2 separate regions of the Homo sapiens genome follow, and region 2 is linked to region 1. The links come from fine-mapping of genetic effects on gene expression. A gene starts in region 1. The other region holds a variant in brackets. All regions are shown on one strand. Distances are from middle to middle. Region 1 holds the start of RHBDL3 (rhomboid like 3). Region 2 overlaps ZNF207 (zinc finger protein 207).

What was found. PIP is the estimated chance that this variant, and not a neighbour inherited with it, causes the effect. A credible set is the group of variants that fine-mapping cannot tell apart.
Region 2: its variant is the best candidate, but not a certain one, in a credible set for the expression of RHBDL3 in amygdala (GTEx, PIP 0.69).

Annotation. Positions count from the first base shown.
Region 1 is chr17:32,261,933-32,270,942 of GRCh38, forward strand. It overlaps RHBDL3 (rhomboid like 3), which reads left to right and starts at 3,900. Exons shown (of 9, transcript NM_138328.3): 1 at 3,900-4,368; 2 at 5,970-5,993. The coding sequence starts at 4,258. It overlaps LOC105371731 (a long non-coding RNA gene), which reads right to left and starts at 3,519. Exons shown (of 3, transcript XR_934665.2): 1 at 3,333-3,519; 2 at 2,814-2,964.
Region 2 is chr17:32,353,345-32,362,354 of GRCh38, forward strand. It overlaps ZNF207 (zinc finger protein 207), which reads left to right. Exons shown (of 12, transcript NM_001098507.2): 3 at 5,159-5,297; 4 at 7,254-7,421; 5 at 7,548-7,623; 6 at 8,124-8,171. Among named protein-coding and RNA genes, the nearest start is that of ZNF207, 7.7 kb to the left of the region's middle. RefSeq lists an enhancer at 896-1,397 and a silencer at 4,333-4,533. The variant C/G (reference allele first, on the strand shown) is at 4,561.

The sequences.
Region 1 (9,010 bases):
TGGCTTTTCCATGGCAGCCAACTGTCCCAGTTCCCAGGACCAGAACATCGGGTCCTTAAAAAAACTCCTTCCTCTCTTGGAGGGCACATTTGAGAGACTCAGCCCTGGAAAGGCTCTTCTCTCTCTCCTCCCCCTTATCCCACTGGACTGTCATTAGAGGATGACCTCATTTTCCCCCAGGAGGCCAGGGCCCGGGTCTCATCCCCTTTGTACTATCAGTACCTCGGCCAGGGTCTGGCACATAATGGACACTCAGCACGTGTGAGCTGAATGGCACTGCTGAGCTGTCGCCAACTTAATCTTCCTAAAATGCTGCTCCAGTTAGAAGCCATCACCGCTTCTCTATCTCCCACTGGGCGAGGTCCAACCTCCTCAGACTGGCACTCGGGGACTCTGGCGACACAGTGCTCCTCGCCTGCCCGGCCATCCTCACTTTGTGCTCAGCCACTTCATGGTTCCCAACACAGTCAACAGCTTTCCTATCTCTGTGTCTTTGCCGCAGCAGTTCCCTCCACCTAGAAACCCTTCCACGTTCTCTACCACAAGCTTGCCCCTTTCAAGGCTCATCTCAACATCATGCTCCTGCCCTTCTAAACCGAGTTTGATCCACCCTTCCCCAGCCCTTCATCCTGCTCTGCGTTGACTTCAAGTGTCTTGTTAGGAACCTTAAAAGAGGCCATGGTGTAGCGCACTTGCAAAATGAAGAGCAAGGAAGAAGTGCCAATAGGCCCAGTTCCGTGTCACTTCTCATTAGCGCCAAAGGTTCTCCCAGGGAGGGGCCTCTGCATGGCACACCTCCAGGCATCGACGAGTGCCTGCCTGCTGCAGCTGGTCAGTGAAAGTGACACCATGCCTACTCCCTCCTCTGCCCCCAAAATGCCACAGAATATGCCAGTCCTTAGGCTGTCTCAGGTGAGAGTAGAACAAAAGGTGTCAGGGTGCCTAGCCACTCCTATCCCCTGGAGCTTTCTAGGCCTGGACCCCAGGCCCCATGTCCTACTGCCTGCTCGGGAGTGGGTTGCAGATTCGCCTGGAGCTGAGGGGCAGAGTGGTCTGACCAGCTGGGCGTAGGTGACATTGAGGACAACAGGTAAAGGGTGGCCTCAGGCTCATGGAGGATGATGGATGTAACAACTTGTCCTAACAGTCTCCAAGTCCAGACACCATCACCTCCCAGCAAGGGCCAAGGTGAGAGAAGCTGCCCCGTGAAGCAAGAATCCTGGTGAGAGATCAGGAATTCCTTCTTAGGAGACTTTTGGAAACATAGCCTGCCAAGGCGGGGTAAATGTTCCTAGGGACAGAAGGAGGAACAAGATAGCCTTCTGGATGTTTCCCATCTTCCCTCTCCCTTTTATTCTAACTGCTGCCGCCCTTGTGACCTCTTCCTTGGACAGCACCTCTCATGGCCCTCTGCTCAGGCCAACCTCCCTCCTGTCTAGACTCTACACTACAGCCAAAGGGATCTTTTTTGTTTGTTTTGAGACGGAGTCTCACTCTGTCGCCCAGGCTGGAGTGCAGTGGCAGATCTCGGCTCACTGCAAGCTCCGCTTCCTGTGGTCAAGTGATTCTCCTGCCTTAGCCTCCCGAGTAGCTGGGATTACAGGCGCCCACCACCACGCCCGGCTAATTTTTTGTATTTTTTTAGTAGAGACAGGGTTTCAACGTGTTAGCCAGGACGGTCTCGATCTCCTGACCTCGTGATCCGCCCGCCTTGGTCTCCCAAAGTGCTGGGATTACAGCCGTGAGCCACCGCGCCTGGCCAGGGATCTTTTAAATATTACTCTACTGCTCACAATCCTTCAATGGCTCCCTATTGCCCTTAGGTAAAGTCCAAGCTCTTTTCCCATGAAACTCACAGCCCCTCACAACCTTCCCGTCCAGGCTGGGCTCTTTAGATTGGTCATCGTGCTCCAGTTTCCAGCCATGCCAAACTGCTTGTCGTTTGCCTCCCATATGATGCTGCTCCACAAGCCTGGTCGTGCTGTTCCCTCTACCTGGAACACCTCCTTCACCTTTTCCATGTTGCCTAGTTCTGGAGGCTTATCCTTTGGGAAGCCTTCCTGGACCCACAGCGACCCCCTCCTTTGGAGTTCTACACCTTCTGGGCTTCCCTTGAATCCAGGACTTACCCTTGTGTTGAATGTGACTGTCACCCCCAATTATCCATTTCTGGAGGGCAGGGTCTGGTTCTTATCCACCTCTGTATTCTCAAAGCTCTGTCATTGGTACTTAGTAGGAGCTTAATACATGTTCAGGAACAGAACTGAGCCTGCTAAGCTCCCTTCCCCACGAAGGGATGACAGAGTTGGATATGTTGATAAGAGCTGTCCCTGGGCTGATGAAGAGGCAGCTCCCTGGGTAGCTGGTATCAGAACACTGTCCAGGGTGGCTGGGCATCCCAGCAGAGTGGCCAACCCTTTTCTGTGCCCTTCTCCTTCCAGTTCCCCTGGAACCAGACTTCCTGGCCCACTTCTCTAGTCCCAGAGATCTAAGTATAACAGAGCCAACACCCATACCGGTCATGCAAATGACAGCCTGGGATGCGGGAGGCAGCGACACAGACCCCAGGGCCCCAGCGGTCATTTGTCCTTCTGGGCTCCTCTTCACAAAGGAATCAGCCTCTCTTCTGTCCCCTGAAGGCTGTTTTCAAAATCACACCCCATGCAGACAGTTTTATTTACAAGGAAATCTTGGCAGGATCTTGACTTGTTAGTAGAGTAGGGATGGGGAGGAGGGTGGTGAGAAACAAAAATAGTTGAAATGATCACACTTTCTGAAACAGAGATGAAAATTGGTGTCTGTAGCAAACTCACCTAATTAGAATCAAGTGAATTCCCTTCTCGGTGTTTAAGGGGAGCAGTCATTGCTGGGTGATGGTCGCAGTTCGGATCCTGGGCACGGGGTTATGTCTTTGCTTTCTGAAGATGACTGCATTAGTTGCAGCTCTCACTAATGGAAAGGAGCCTGTTCCGTTTCCCAGAGGAAGGAAGAGGGCAAAGACTAGTGAGTGAGTGGGTGGTGGGAAGAGGAAAGCAAGAGGAGTGGAAGGGCACAGCCTTGGTGTGGGCTGGGGACTGACTGCGAGATGCCTCCTGGAGAAGCTCCTGAGCCTCTGGGGAGAGCTGGCCCCTGCCAGGCCGGCCACTAGCACCATTTACAGCCAGAGCCTCTGCTTCGGGAGATGGTCTCTCTTGGGGGCGCTTTCCTGCAGGGAAACAGCATCGATTGTTTTCTTTAAAAGATCCCCTACTCCGTTTTGGCTAACTTCCTTTCTGATTGCTTTAGTTTCTTTACCGTCCCTCTCCCCAGATGGGGCATTTCCCTGGGCTTACCTTTGTCCATGTGGTCAAATGAAGCCTGGGCATGGTCACTTAGCTCTGGGTGTAGGAAGGGCAAGATTTAGGCTTTGGGGCCCACGACCCCGCAATCTGACTTCTCCCATTTCTGGGCCTCCCGAGACCTCCCAGAATCTGAGACCGCAGTGAATAGGGCGTAAGGATAATGGGGCGGGAGGCAGGAATCCCGTCCTTACAACATCGCGCCCCCAATTCACTCCTAGTTAACCCTGACGTCGCCAACATAGTGTCTCCATCACATATCTGCCACCTCCAAGTGATGGTTAAGCCGATGGAAGAGCCAAGCCCGGGCCCGGAGTGCAGGCCGGTGGTGACCGGGCCGGGGACGGCGCAGTCCCCATCCCCGCCCCGGGCAGCGCCACCACTTCCTCGCCAGCCCCGCCGCAGCCCTCCCGCTCCCGGGCCGCGCCGCTCTGACCGACTGGGCCCGGGTGGCGGCGCCCGGGGTGGGGTGCGGGGCGGGGGCCGGCGTTCCCCGCGAGCAGCCCCGCCCCCGCCCGCGCGCCGCCCCCGAGGACTCCGCGGGGAGGAGGAGACTCGGGCGCAGAGCGGGGGCCGCGAGAAGCGGGAAGGGAGCGCGGGGAGCGGCGGGGCCGGGGCCGGCCCAAGGGCGCCCTCGCCTCGGAGCCGGGCGCGAGGGCCGGGGCGGAGGCGGAGGCCGGCGGGGCAGCTAGCGCAGTGAAGTTTGGCGGCGGAGGGGCCGGGCGTCCCGGGGTCGCGAGGAGGCGGCGGCGGCGCGGGGACCGGGGCCATGGGGGCGGGCGCGGGCTGCGGAGCGGGCGCGGAGGCGGCGCGGCGCGCACTGAGCCCCTGGAGCGGCGCGGCCGCCGCGGCGCAAAGTTAGCCCGGCGCCCCGGGACGAGCCCCGCAGCCGCCGCCGCCCCCGGACCCCGTCTCGGCCATGGGCGAGCACCCCAGCCCGGGCCCCGCGGTGGCCGCCTGCGCCGAGGCGGAGCGCATCGAGGAGCTGGAACCCGAGGCCGAGGAGCGGCTGCCCGCGGCGCCGGAGGACGTGAGTGCCCCCTCCCCGCCCGGCAAACTTTCTAGGGGGCGCCGGGGGGAAAAGCCGCCCCTGTCTCGCCCCACGCCGGGCAACTTGGAGGTTTCAGGGTGACGCGGGAGCGCCCCGGATTGGCCGGGTCCCCGCGGGCAGGAGGGGGCGGAGGGACCGGTCTCCCCGAAACGCGCGCGCACCGCTTCCCCCGCTCTGGTTCCCGCGGCTTCCCTGCGGGACACAGCACCGCCACTGCGCCGCGGACCTGTCACCGCCGGAGCCCCCTCCCCGCCGCTGGTGCAGTGCCCGGGACACGGCGTTTTCCCGCAGAGGCGGCCGCGTCACGGCGGTGACTCCCCCTCCCCTCACGCCCGCGACCTGCGAGCTCCCGGAGCTGGGGAAGGAGCGGACGCCGCAGAGTCCCCGTCCCTGGCCATGCAAGCCGGCCTGGCGACCCCTTCCTCCGCTCCCGGATTAGCTCCCGCCCGGCACCTGCCTTGCCGCGACACTGATTGAAATTCAAGCCGGCCCCCGCCTCTGACCCCGGCCGGAGCAGGGAGGCAAAGAGTGCTGGGAGCGGCTTTGCTCCTAGAAGGAGGCCCGGGAGTCCAAGACCGTGGCGGTGCCAGGGGACGGTCCCCTGGGCGAGGAGAGGGAGGGGCTGCCCCGAGGGCTTCCCCGCCGTCTGCTGCTCGGGTCTCCATCCCTCCGGTCCTGCGGGCCGGCCCTGCGAAGCCCTGGGAACTGGAGTTTCTTGGGTTAACCTCCCGGGGCTAACCTACACATAGGGGTGAAAAACCGGGCAGACACCCTGCCCTGCCCACTCCTCCCTCAGGGTGGGGAGATGGAAGTGAAACCAGGCCCCCAACCCACACAACGAAAGCGGGAAAGTCTGAATGGGGTTGGGGGGTAGTTTACGATCTTCTCTCTTTGGCGTCTGCGGTTAAATCTATCACTTCCTTCTGGCCCTAAACCCCTGGCAGAATCTGATGTAGTCACCACTTAGACTCAGCCTTGGAAGAGAATGGGTGGGCTTCACCGCATTCGGCATTCACCACCCCCCCTTCCCCGCAAAAAAACAAAAAACGAACAAACAAACAAAAAACTGCAGGCAAAATGTTAGTGTTTATGCAGAGGTGAGTTCTCCTGGGGGGGGAGGGGGGGGCTCTAGCTCCCAGCAGGTGAGACTCATTGCGCCGGGGTCTGATGGAATTGCACCTGGCCATGCTCTCCCAGGCCTGGGAGTAGCTGTGGACATAAGCTTTAGGCAGCAGAAATTATTAGAGGCGCTTGGACATATTTGGACGCCTTTATTTAGTAATTGTTGAGAATCACTTGTTCTGCCAGTTCCAGAACCAGCAACACCCACCTTGCCGCCCCCGCCCCCACCCCATCCCTTACTGTGAGTTTCCTCCCTCTGCTCAGTGTGGACTCATTGGGGAGCTCCTCCCAGACTTCCCCTGCTCTCCTGTGGCCAGTCCCTGAGCCTGGTCATGACTCCTGGGCAGCCGCTGGGAGGCTATGTCAGAAACATCCGAGGACTACAGAGACCTTGGTGATAAGTGTGTCTTTCTTTCTCTCCTCTTCTTCCTCTCCTGCATGGCCTCCCTCTCTGCCAGCACTGGAAAGTCCTGTTTGATCAGGTATGTGAGCAGTTAACCCCCCATTTCCTTCCAGCCCTCCCTGAAATCGGTCTCAGTCTCCCTGCTTGCGTGGGCTTCCCTAGCTCCGCGCTCCTGAGATGGTGACGTGGGGTGGGGGTGTGGCTTTGTGCATCTCTAGGGCTGAACGACACTGCTCTCCAGGTATCAGGAGGAAGAGATGGGCTCCCCTGAGAGGATCTCCCTCCTGCCTCCTCCCTACTCTGCTGCACCAGAGCCGGGTTTACACCATGTAGAAATTGGACGTTATATATTGAATGCCTGGGAAATCCTCCATATGCCAGGGGATTGCAGTAGGGGGCTGGAGAGGTGGGGGAAGGGCTTGGGCTGACAATCCCTCTCCGTTTCTACCTCCACTATGGAGGGTCCATGGCCACCGCTGAAGTCAAATCTCTGCCATCCTTGGGGGCTGACTCACAGTATGGACTCTTTTGAAGTCTAATTCAATGTCTTTAATTCTGTCATAGGGATGAGGGAGTGCTGGGAGGTTACAGAGGGGAAATTGTGTGTGATTCTTCGCAATGCCTGGAGTCCAGGTGTAGGGCATGGAGTTGGGGGTGCCAAGTATTGGCTTTTGAACCTGGAGATGGACATTTGACCTTCAGCAAGGAAATGGTTCTCCTCTTAGCATTCGTGGTGGGTGCTGTTATGTGCTTCCTTCTCCCTCTTTGCCCCATGTTGGAGGATAGTTGAGTGCTATAGTCCTGGGGTGAGAATGATTGTGCCATGAAGTTTGTGCAACTTTAAGAAATTGGTGTGAGTGGGCCAGAGGGAATGTGTTGGGTAGGAGAAGGAGATAAAGCTGAAAAATTAGCTTGAACCAGGACTTCGTTGTAGGCAGGGGAAGCCTTAGAAAGTTTTTTAGCAGGGTTGTTATGTGATCCAAGCCAGGCTTGGGAAAGCTCCAGTGTCTTAGGGGATAAGGAGTGAATGGGCTACGGGGATGAGGGAAGCTAGGCAGGAGCTGCAGCACTGAACAGAGGCAAGAAGGTGACAGTGAGGATGGACGGGAAGAGGGACATGGTGATGGAAGAATTGGAAGATCTTAATAGACCGTAGGTGAGGGGAACCACATATCTAACTTTGAGATTCTGAACCTAGGAGGGAAAGAAGTTGGAGTGGGGCCAGGTGTGGTGACTCACGCTTGTAATCCCAACACTTTGGGAGGCTAAGGCGGGAGGATCACTTGAACCCAGTAGTTCAAGACCAGCCTCGCCAACAAAGTGAGACCTCATCTCTACAAAAAATTAAAAAATCAGCCAGGCATGGTAGCACACTCCTGTGGTTCCAGCTACATGAGAGACTGAGGCAGGAGGATTGCCTGAGCCCAGGAAGTTGAGGCTGCAGTGAGCCACGATCGTGCTACTGCACTCCAACCTGAGTGACAGAGTGGGACCCTGTCTCAAAACAAAAACAAAAAACAAGTTGGAGTGAGGAGAGACGTTTGGCAAAAATGACAACTTTGGTTTGAGACAAGTTCAGTTAGAGGAGCCAGCCGGTTGCAGATGCCGGAGTGGGCGTGATGACACGGAATTGCAGCGCGAAAGGCCTGGGGTGAGGATTTGGGGTGATCATCCACATTAACCACGAGGTCTGGCTGTGGTTTGAAGTTCAAAGCATGCACTGGCTCCTGTCCTGACGGGTAGAGCATCTCTCCCTCTGGCTCCTAAGAGTACAGCAGCTGCTGGCCTGATGCCCCAAGGCAGGAGGGAGCCCGCTGCGCCACTGCCACCACTACCACCAAGCTGCCAGCCCTTCACACCTCCTGCCAGATTTAGAATCAGAACCTAGAACAAAGTGTATCATTCTTTTTTTTTCTCTGTCTGTGTCTATCTTTTTCATTTGATTAATTTCCTTTGCCAGTCCCTGTGTGTATGTGTACATTTTAAAACAAACCATTTGGGTGAAAGGAAGAGAGCTTTTAGTAGGAAGATTTTGGAACTCAAGGGAGCAGAAAGAATGTGTAGCACCTAATAGTAGCTAGTGGTCTATTAAATCGAATTTTTCCAACTGAAGGTAGGTCCTGGGTCCTGGGTGTCACAAAGAGCATACCCCTGCTTCTGGGAGGCCTGCCCAGAATTAATTCTAGGAAAGAAATTAGGCCAGGCACAGTGGCTAACGCCGGTAATCCCAGCATTTTGGGAGGCTGAGACAGGAGGATGGCCTCCCAAAAAGTGAGACCCTTTCTCAAAAAAAAAAAAAAAAAAAAAAAAAGAAGCAAGCAACCCTGATAGATCAAACTGCAGTCATGGATGGGACATGACACCTCTCAGAGTCCCTGTAAGCACAAGTGACTCTGGAGTTCGCCTTCCAGAGATCAATGGCATGGGTGGCTAGAACCAGTCAAGTATCTCCTCCCTCCCTTCTTGGGTCAAGCAGACACCAGTGGTAGCCCAATTTCAAACTGGGATCTGCTAGGGTCTGTTTTCCAGGTGTTAGGGATGGATTAGACCAGTCCCTCCATAATGTCTGGTTCTTCAGCATGTGGAGTAGCCTTGATCTAGCATGACGCCAACTGGACCCCAAGGGCTAGAAGCCATGGTGTTGGTCTTGTTGGTCCTATATGGTCACCGTCGAACTAAATGGCCAGGATACCTTTTGTGGGGACTGGAGGTGATGAAAGCAGGTGACCCCAGTCCCATGGAAGCTTCTGCATCCCCCTCCCTGGCATTGTGGCATCTGGCCCACTCAAGCAGGAGTGTTAGCAGGGCCAATCCATGCCACGCACCCTCACTCCCCCGATTCTTCCCCATGGGTCCCAGAAGTTGCAGCAGGTGGGAGACCTGAGGGTCATCAGTTCAACTCGGTATGTTCCATGTGTTCATGTCCTGTTCAAACTTCTTCTTGAGGGAATCGTCTTTTCATATTTTGGAGATCTTGATGGTTTTCCTAAATATTTAAGTAGATTTAAAATTTACCATAAATATTAGTCTGTTGTTATAGTATAATATCGTAGTAAAGATGTTTTATTTTTCTGACTGGGTGCTCACACCTGTAAT
Region 2 (9,010 bases), 91 kb after region 1:
TACAGAAATATGAGATGAGCAAATACCAAATCATTGGAAACTACTATGGGTGGGAGGTAGGGAGACGTGATTTCTCCAGGTTTAAAGATAAATTTATATAGATCCTTTTCACTCCAGATACTTTAACAATAATTTAATATTCATTTTAAAATGTTGACCAGATGTGGTGGCTCACGCCTGTAATCCCAGCACTTTGGGAGGCCGAGGCTGGTGGATCACCTGAGGTCAGGGTTTCAAGACCAGCCTGACCAACGTGGTGAAACCCCATCTCTACAAATACCAAAAATTAGCTGGGCATGGTGGCAGGCACATGTAGTCCTGGCTACGGGGGCGGGGGGAGGGCTGGGGGCGGGGGGCGCGAGGCGGGTGCTGAGACAGGAGAATCACTTGAACCCGGGAGGCAGAGTTTGCGGTGAGCTGAGTTTGTGCCACTGCACTCCAGCCTGGGTGACAGAGACTCTGTCTCCAAAAAAAAAAAAAAAAAAAAAAAAATTGTTAGAGAACCTACTACATGTTAGACTCACAGCTGTTCACTGTTGCAGCCATTAGTTACATGTGGCTATTTAAAATGATATAAATATCTAAATGCTCAGTTTCTCTGTCAAGTAGCTAACTTATATTGGGTAGTGTGGATAAGAACATTTTGTTTTGATTGATTGACAGGGTCTCATTCTGTTGTCCAGGCTGGAGTGCAGATCATAGCTCACCGCAACTTTGAACTCCCTTACTCAAATGATCCTTCCACCTTAGCCTCCTGAGTACCTGGGACAACAATTGTGTACCACCATACCTGGCTATTTTTAAAATTTTATTTTTGTAGAGACAGGGTCTCACTATGTTGCACAGGCTGGTCGCCCAACTCCCAGGATCAATCGATTCTCCCACTCGGCCTCCCAAAGTGCTGGAATTACAGTTGTGAGCCACTGAGCCCGGCCATTTTCTTTAATTCTGAATGAAATAGGGGTTTAAATAGAGATGTATGCTCTGTCAGTTTTTTTTTTGTTTTATTTTGAAACGGAGTTTTGCTCTGTCTTGTGCTCACTGCAGCCTCCGCCTCCTGGGCTTAAGTGATTCTTGTGCATCAGCCTTCCAAATAGCTAGGATTACAGGCATGCACCACCGTGCCTGCCTGAGTTGTATTTTTAGTAGAGATGGGGCTTCACCACGTTGGCCAGGGTGGTCTTGAACTCCTGGCCTCAAGTGATCCCATCTACTTTGGCCTCCCAAAGTGCTGGGATTACAGGCATAAGTCACTGCAGCTGGCCTCTATTAGACTTTTTTTTTTTTCTTGAGACGGAGTCTCTTTCGTCCAGGCTGGAGTGCAGTGGGCGTGATCTCGGCTCACCGCAGCCTCTGCCCTCCGGGTTCAAGCAATTCTCCTGCCTCAGCCTCTCGAGTAGCTGGGATTACAGACGCCTGCCATTGTGCCTAGCTAATTGTTTTGTATTTTTAGTACAGATGGGGTTTCACCATCTTGGCCAGGCTGGTCTTGAACTCCTGACCTCCTGATCCACCTTCCTTGGCCTCCCAAAGTGCTGGGATTACAGGCGTGAGCCACTGCGCCCAGCCTGTAAGACTTTTTAAAAGGATTTTTCTGGCTGCAGGGTTGAAAGTAAAGTGCAGAGTACGGTGAGACCACTTTAGAAGACTTAGAATATTCCAGACAAGAGGAGATGGTGACAGAGACCAGAGTTTGATAGGTTAGATATGGGGTATAAGAAAAAGTGAGGAGTTAAGGGTGGTCTCAAGATGTTGATCTCAAGATGGTCTGGCTAGGTGCGGTGGCTCACGCCTGTAATCAGCACTTTGGTAGGCCGAGATGGACTAATCACTTGATCCTAATAGTTCGAGACTAGCCTGGGCAATATAATGAGACCCTGTCTCTACAAAAAATGCAAAGTTGGGCATGGTGGCACGTGCCTGTGTCCCAGCTACTCAGGAGGCTGAGGCAGGAGGATCGCTTGAGCTGGGGAGGACGAGACTGCAGTGAGCCGTGATAGCACTACTCAGCTCCAACTTGGGCTACAAGAGTGAAACCCTGTCTCAAAAATGTTTATTTTGAGCATATGACGAGATGTGAAAAGCTACAGGGATAATAGGCTTAAGAATGAGAATAAGGGAGTCCTGTGTTAATTTTGAGTGTAGGTATGTTTGAGGTCTATTAAATATCCAGATGAAAAGGTTACCGAAGCAGTTTGATGTACAAGTCAGGAGTTCATAGAAATTAAAACAGGAGATAGAAATTTGGACGCATACAATGTAAGGGTGGCTAGTTTAAGCCGCGCTACCAGATGTCCTTTGTAAGGACTGTAGTGTGGTTGGAAATTAGGTGCTCTCTGCTCTAGGCCACTTCCAACATTTGAAGGTCAGGAGATTAAAAGGAATCGTCTAAGGAGATGAAAGGTAGGAAAACCAAGAGTAGTGCCCTGGAAGTCAATGACGTGTTTCAAGGAGTGAGTTATTTAACTGAGTCAAATGCTGGTTCAGTAAGAGTACTGAGACTGGGTTAATAAGGTCATTGGTGACTTGACAAAGAGCGATTTCCAAGAGTGGTGAGGGTGAAGTGTGATTACGGTGCTTTGAAGAGACAGGGAGAGGAAGCGAAGGCATTCTTAGGGAGTTGCACTTTATGAAGAGCAGAGAAGTGGAGTGGAAGCTTCAAGGTTAGTTGAGAAACTTAGTAACATTATTGTCTGAGTGCCTTTATTTAGTCCTATTTTCACAGCAACCTGTGAGATAGACCTGGCAGTTAAATCATACCAATTTTATAGATGATAAACCCTAAGACATTATTAGTAAGTTAGGTGGTTCCCTGCAGTTTCTCATCAGTGCTTGCTCCTGTCTTTTCAACCAAGACGCTATGACTTTGCTTGGCAGGGTCCCAAGAAATCTAATTCTGGCTGTACCATAATAGATACACCTTTAATTGTTGCCCTTCTCAAAAATGTAGTGAAGATTAGTGTGTATGTGAATGTAATTGTTTATAGAATGCCTGTTGCATCATCTCTTTATTAAGAATAGCAAAATATTCCAAAAAACCTTAGGAAACGGCAATTAAGTCACTTGTTAAGCCGCTTTATCCATAAATATTTTAATTGCAATATAAGGAATAGCTTTTAACAATCAGATATTAAGATAATTTCTGAGTTTGATTTGCATGCCCCAGTTTCAAATCTTTAAGTGAGATACATTGCTAAGAAGAAAATACTTAGCTTTTTGTAGTTACTTTTCTGTTCGTACATGAAAATGTCTTAGGAGGAAAGAAAAAATGAGTATTATTTGGGCAAATATATCTAAGTCATTAGCCTAAATGAGTGCTTCTCAAACTTGAGCATGCATTAGCATTTCCAGAAAGGCTTGATAGTCTAGGCAAAATACTTTGACATCTACTTCAGCAAAATGGCTTGCTGAAGAAACCAAGACTGGCAGGGATATTACATTATTGGCAAAAGTTACCCAGATCTGAAGATTAGAAGCGCTTATGTAGCAAAACAATATAATGAAAAAAAATCCCAGATTTTCAGTGTGTTGCAATAAACATGTTAAAGTGCCTCAGGGCTGGGCATGGTGGCTCACCTCTGTAACCCAGCACTTTAGGACACTGAGGTGGGTGGATCCCTTGAGTTCAGGAGTTTGAGAGCAGCCTGGGGAACATAACAAAACTACCTCGCCACAGAAAATACAAAAATTAGCCAGGCATGGCGGCACGCACCTGTAGTCCCAGTTACTTGGGAGGCTGAGGTGGGAGGGTGGCTTGAGCTTGGGAGGCGGAGGTTGCAGTGAACTGAGATAATGGCACTGTACTCCTGCTTGGGTGGCAGAGTGAGACCCTGTCTTAAAAAAAAAAAAAAGTAAAATGCCTCACGTAACTCATTAGTTACAAGTGATACTGATTGCAAATGTAACTTTTCTAGTTTGTAACCAGAGGCTTGTCTCAAGATCTATACTTAGAAAATTTGCTATTCTAATTATTATTATTATTATTATTATTATTATTATTATTATTATTTTTTTTTTTTTTTGAGACAGAATCTCGCTCTCTTGCCCAGGCTAGAGTGCCGTGGCACGGTCTCGGCTCACTGTAACCTCTGCCTCCCGTGTTCAAGCGATTCTTCTGCCTCAGCCTCCTGAGTAGCTGGGATTACAGGCACGTGCCACCATGCCCGGCTAATTTTTGTATTTTTAGTAGAGATGGGGTTTCACCATGTTGGTCAGGCTGGTCTCGAACTCTTGACCTCGTGATCCGCCCGCCTCGGCCTCCCAAAGTGCTGGGATTACAGGCGTGAGCCGCCCCACCTGACTTTTTATTTTTTATTTATTTTTTTTGGAGACAGTCTCTCAGTATCTGCCCAGGCTGGAGTGCTCACTGCAACCTCTGCCTCCCAGGTTCAAGTGATTCTCATGCCTCAGCCTGTCGAGTGACTGGGATTATGGGTGTGCACCACCACGCCCTGCTAATTTTTTTTTTGTTTTTTTTGAGGGACTCTCCCTCTCACGCAGGCTGGATTGCAGTGGTGTGACCTCTGCTCACTTCAAGTGATTCTGCCTCCTCAGCCTCCC[C/G]AGTAGCTGGGATTACAGGCAGACCCCACCACACCCGACTAATTTTTTGTATTTTTAGTCGGGACAGGGTTTTGCCACGTTGGCCAGGCTGGTCTCAAACTCCTGACCTCAGGTGATCCACCCGTCTTGGCCTCCCAAGTGCTGGGATTACAGATGTGAGCCACCTCGCCTGGCTATATTCTAATTCTTAATATGAGGCTGTTTCATAATCTTTACTTAATTCACACTTGAAACATCCCTGATTTGGATAGGACTACTAGTTACTGCTAATAATTGAAGTAATCAAGATTATATGGTAAACTTGAAAGAATGTTTATTGAATGCTTACTGTATGTTAGACATCTCGCCAAGTGTTTTTTATATACAGTATTTAATCCTAAAAACAACTCTAGAAGTTAGCTATTATATAGGTGAAGTAAACTGAGGCTTAGAAGTTCACTGACATGCTTAATGTCACAGAGCTAGTGAATGGCAAAACTGGGAATTGGCTCTACATGGCCTCACTATAGAACATTTATTCTTTATACTAAGCAGTCTTTGATTAACTTGGAATTATTCTTAAAAAAGACTTTTATCTAATGGAAATTGTTGTTGTTAGGTACATAAAGAAACAATAGATGCCGTACCAAATGCAATACCTGGAAGAACAGACATAGAGTTGGAAATATATGGTATGGAAGGTATTCCAGAAAAAGACATGGATGAAAGACGACGACTTCTTGAACAGAAAACACAAGGTAAATATTGGGATAAGTTTTATTTTATTTATTTATTTTTTTTAATTTTTTTTTTTTTGAGACAGAGGCTTACTCTGTCCAGCCGAGGCTGGAGTACAGTGGTGTGATCTGGGCTCTCTGCATCTTCTGCCTCCGGGGTTTAAGTGATTGTTTGTTTGTTTTTTTCTTTTTTGAGGTGGAGTCTTGCTCTGTTGCCAGGCTGGAGTGCAGTAGCATGATCTCGGCTCATTGCACTGCAACCTCTGCTTCCCAGGTTCAAGCCATTCTCTTGACTTGGCCTCCTGAGTAGCTGGCACTACAGGCATGCACTACCACGCCCGGCTAGTTTTTGTGTTTTTAGTAGATACGGGGTTTTACCATGTTGGTCAGGCTGGTCTCGAACTCCAGACCCTAAGTGGTGATTTGCCCACTTTTGCCTCGCAAAGTGCTGGGATTACAGGCGCAAGCCACCACACCCAGCTGATTTTTGTTTGTTTTTGTTTTTGTTTTGAGATGGAGTCTCACTCTGTTGCCCAGGCTGGAGTGCAGAGGTGCGATCTCGGCTTACCACAACCTCCGCTTCCCAGGTTCAAGCAATTCTCCTGCCTCAGCCTTCGGAGTAGCTGGGATTAGAGGTGTGTGCCACCACACCTGGCTAATTTTTGTGTTTTTAGTAGAGACAGGGTTTCACCATGTTGGTCAGGCTGGTCTTGAACTCCTGACCTCGTGATCTGCCCGCCTCGGCCTCCCAAAGTGCTGGGATTACAGATGTGAGTCACCACACCTGGCCTAGTTTTTATATTTTTTAGTAGAAACGGGGTTTCACCATGTTGGTCAGGCTGGTCTCAAACTCCTGACCTCAAGCAATCTACCTGCTGAGGCCTCCCTAAGTGCTGGGATTACAGGTGTGAGCCACCATCTCTCTCCCCTTGTGATAATATTCTTTTTTCAGCCTCACTTAAGCCCAGAGTTAGTATTTTCAATTATAAATTTAATGGTAGGGTAGTTGGAGTGGCTCACACCTGTAATCCCAGCACTATGGGCAGGCAGTGCAGGAAAATTGCTTGAGCCCAGAAATTGGGAGACCAACCTAGGCAATAGAGAATGACACCCTGTCTTTACAAAAAAAAAATACAAAAATTAGCCGGGTGTGGTGGCACATGCCTATAGTCTAAGCTGAGGTGGGAGGATCTCTTGAGCCCAAGGGGTTGAGGCTTCAGTGAGCTGTGAATTCTCCAGTCTGGGCAACAGAGTGAGATCCTATTTAGATAAATCGATTGATTGATCACTTGATAGATAGATAAAATTGAATGGTAGATGATAGATTTATTTGGAATTTAAAATTTGAGCTCTGTTTTTGAAGACATACTTGATTTGTATATATGCAGTACCATTTGGATCATTCCATTTTCTTATATTATTATTCATAATTGAATTCCAAATAGAATTAGCAAGTGTTAAGGCATATGAAAATGAAGGACTCCTATAATTTCAGTGCTTTAGGTAGCTGAGGCCGTAGGATCACTTGAGGCCAAAAGTTCAAGACCTCACCTTTACCCCCCCCCCAAAAAAAAAAAAAAAAAGCCCAGTGTGGTGGCATGTGTCTGCAGTCCCAGCTACTTGGGAGACTGTGGCGGGAGGATCGCTTCAGCCCAGGAGTTTGAGAGTGCAGTGAGCTGCAGTCGTGCCACTGCTGTACAGCCTGCATCGCAGAGCAAGACTTTACTAAAAATTTAAAAGAAAAAATACTGATTTAGGATAATCATTTTACCTTTCATAGGACAGGGAAAGAACGTTAATCTTGTTTAATATAGGGCGAAAACACATTTGAAGAACATAGAGCAGTATTAATTGAATTTTTGGGGAAGAAAAATCTCATGAAGTAATTTTACCCATATATGTATTTTTAAATATTGAATGTTGTAAATAAACTTTCTTAGTTTTTACTCTATGGAAATAATTTTTTTTTTTTAACAGAAAGTCAAAAAAAGAAGCAACAAGATGATTCTGATGAATATGATGATGACGACTCTGCAGCCTCAACTTCATTTCAGCCACAGCCTGTTCAACCTCAGCAAGGTTATATTCCTCCAATGGCACAGCCAGGACTGCCACCAGTACCAGGAGCACCAGGAATGCCTCCAGGTAGCACATAGGATTGCTTAAAATCTAACATTTTTAGGACATTATTGATATTGTATCGAAGTATTACTTTCTTCCCTCTAACTCTTTAATATTTGTTATTATTTTGATTGAAATTCTTGCTTGTAGGCATACCTCCATTAATGCCAGGTGTTCCTCCTCTGATGCCAGGAATGCCACCAGTTATGCCAGGCATGCCACCTGGGTAAGAAAATTCTTTTAATTGCCCTGTAGGCTTGTGCCTAGTAATGATCTTTTTCAATTTGGATGTTATATGAATGAAATGTTACTTTCCATTTTTTGCTTCTAGAAGGTATGGGCTCTATATATCTTGTCTAATAAAGGGATCAACCAGTAAATTTAAGGAATATAAATTTGCCTCTGAGTAATAGATTTTTGGGTTTTAGGGTATATGTAAGCAACCATCTACTTCAATTGCATTTACTGTGATTAAAGTAGTTGGTTATTTATAGATTTGCGTTTCTGAGATTCAGAATTATCTGTGACACTTTGTAGTTGTGACAAGAAGCAGAGAAACTCTGTAAATGATTTATTTGTCAAAGCATCAAAACTAAAATGAATATGAGGTGCTTGTGCCCATCACTTTTACTTAAATATTGTTGGATGTGAGAGGTATACAATACACTTTCCCACTGTATTTTGAAAATCACAGTTAGATTTTGATTTTGTCATACATTTTCACAGATTGCATCATCAGAGAAAATACACCCAGTCATTTTGCGGTGAAAACATGTAAGCATCTCATTCATAATGTAATTCAGGAGGTATAATCATACTGTCATTTTTTTATGTGTGTGTTTAATGGTATCTATTCAGTTGACTTCAGAAATTTTCTAACCTTCCTCACTAAAACTTGCAAGCTAATTAACACAGGTCTCTTAAAGAAGGAAAATAAAACATCTTTTAGGAAACGGTAATAGACCCATATAAACATACTTCAAATGTGCAGTGATTTTCTCCAAACTATTGAAAGTAATGGGACCTGTTAATAAGGGTTAGTATTTAAGAAAGACTATATTCTATGAAATTACATGCTTTATTATTATAGGATGTAATGGAATTTTCTAATCTATTAATAGAAGTTAATCTTCTGATAAAAATTTTAAATCAAGAACTGAATTTACCCACAAAAATTTAAAAAATTTGAAAGAAAATTGACCAATTTATCATTTTTTAAGTGAATTGGACACTGATATTTGAAGGTGAGCTCTTTTAGGGGAAAAAATAAGTGGGTTGTGTTTTTAAGTCATGGTTTAGTGGTAGGTAGTTATTGTAAATAGGCCATCTGGTTTTACTTTTGAGTGTCTTTAATTTTGGTGGTAGTATTTCCTTTCTCTAAAAAAAAAAAGTGTGTGTGTGTGTGTGTGTGTGTGTATATGTATGTATTTGACACAGGGTCTCTTACTCTGTCGCCCAGACTACAGTGCAGTGGCGCAGTCACAGCTTACTGCAGCCTTGACCTCCTGGGCTCAAGTGATCCTCCCACCTCAGCCCTCTGAGTATCTGGGACTACAGGCGCACACTACTGCACCCAGCTAATGTTTAAAATTTTTGCTTTTTTAAAAAGTTAT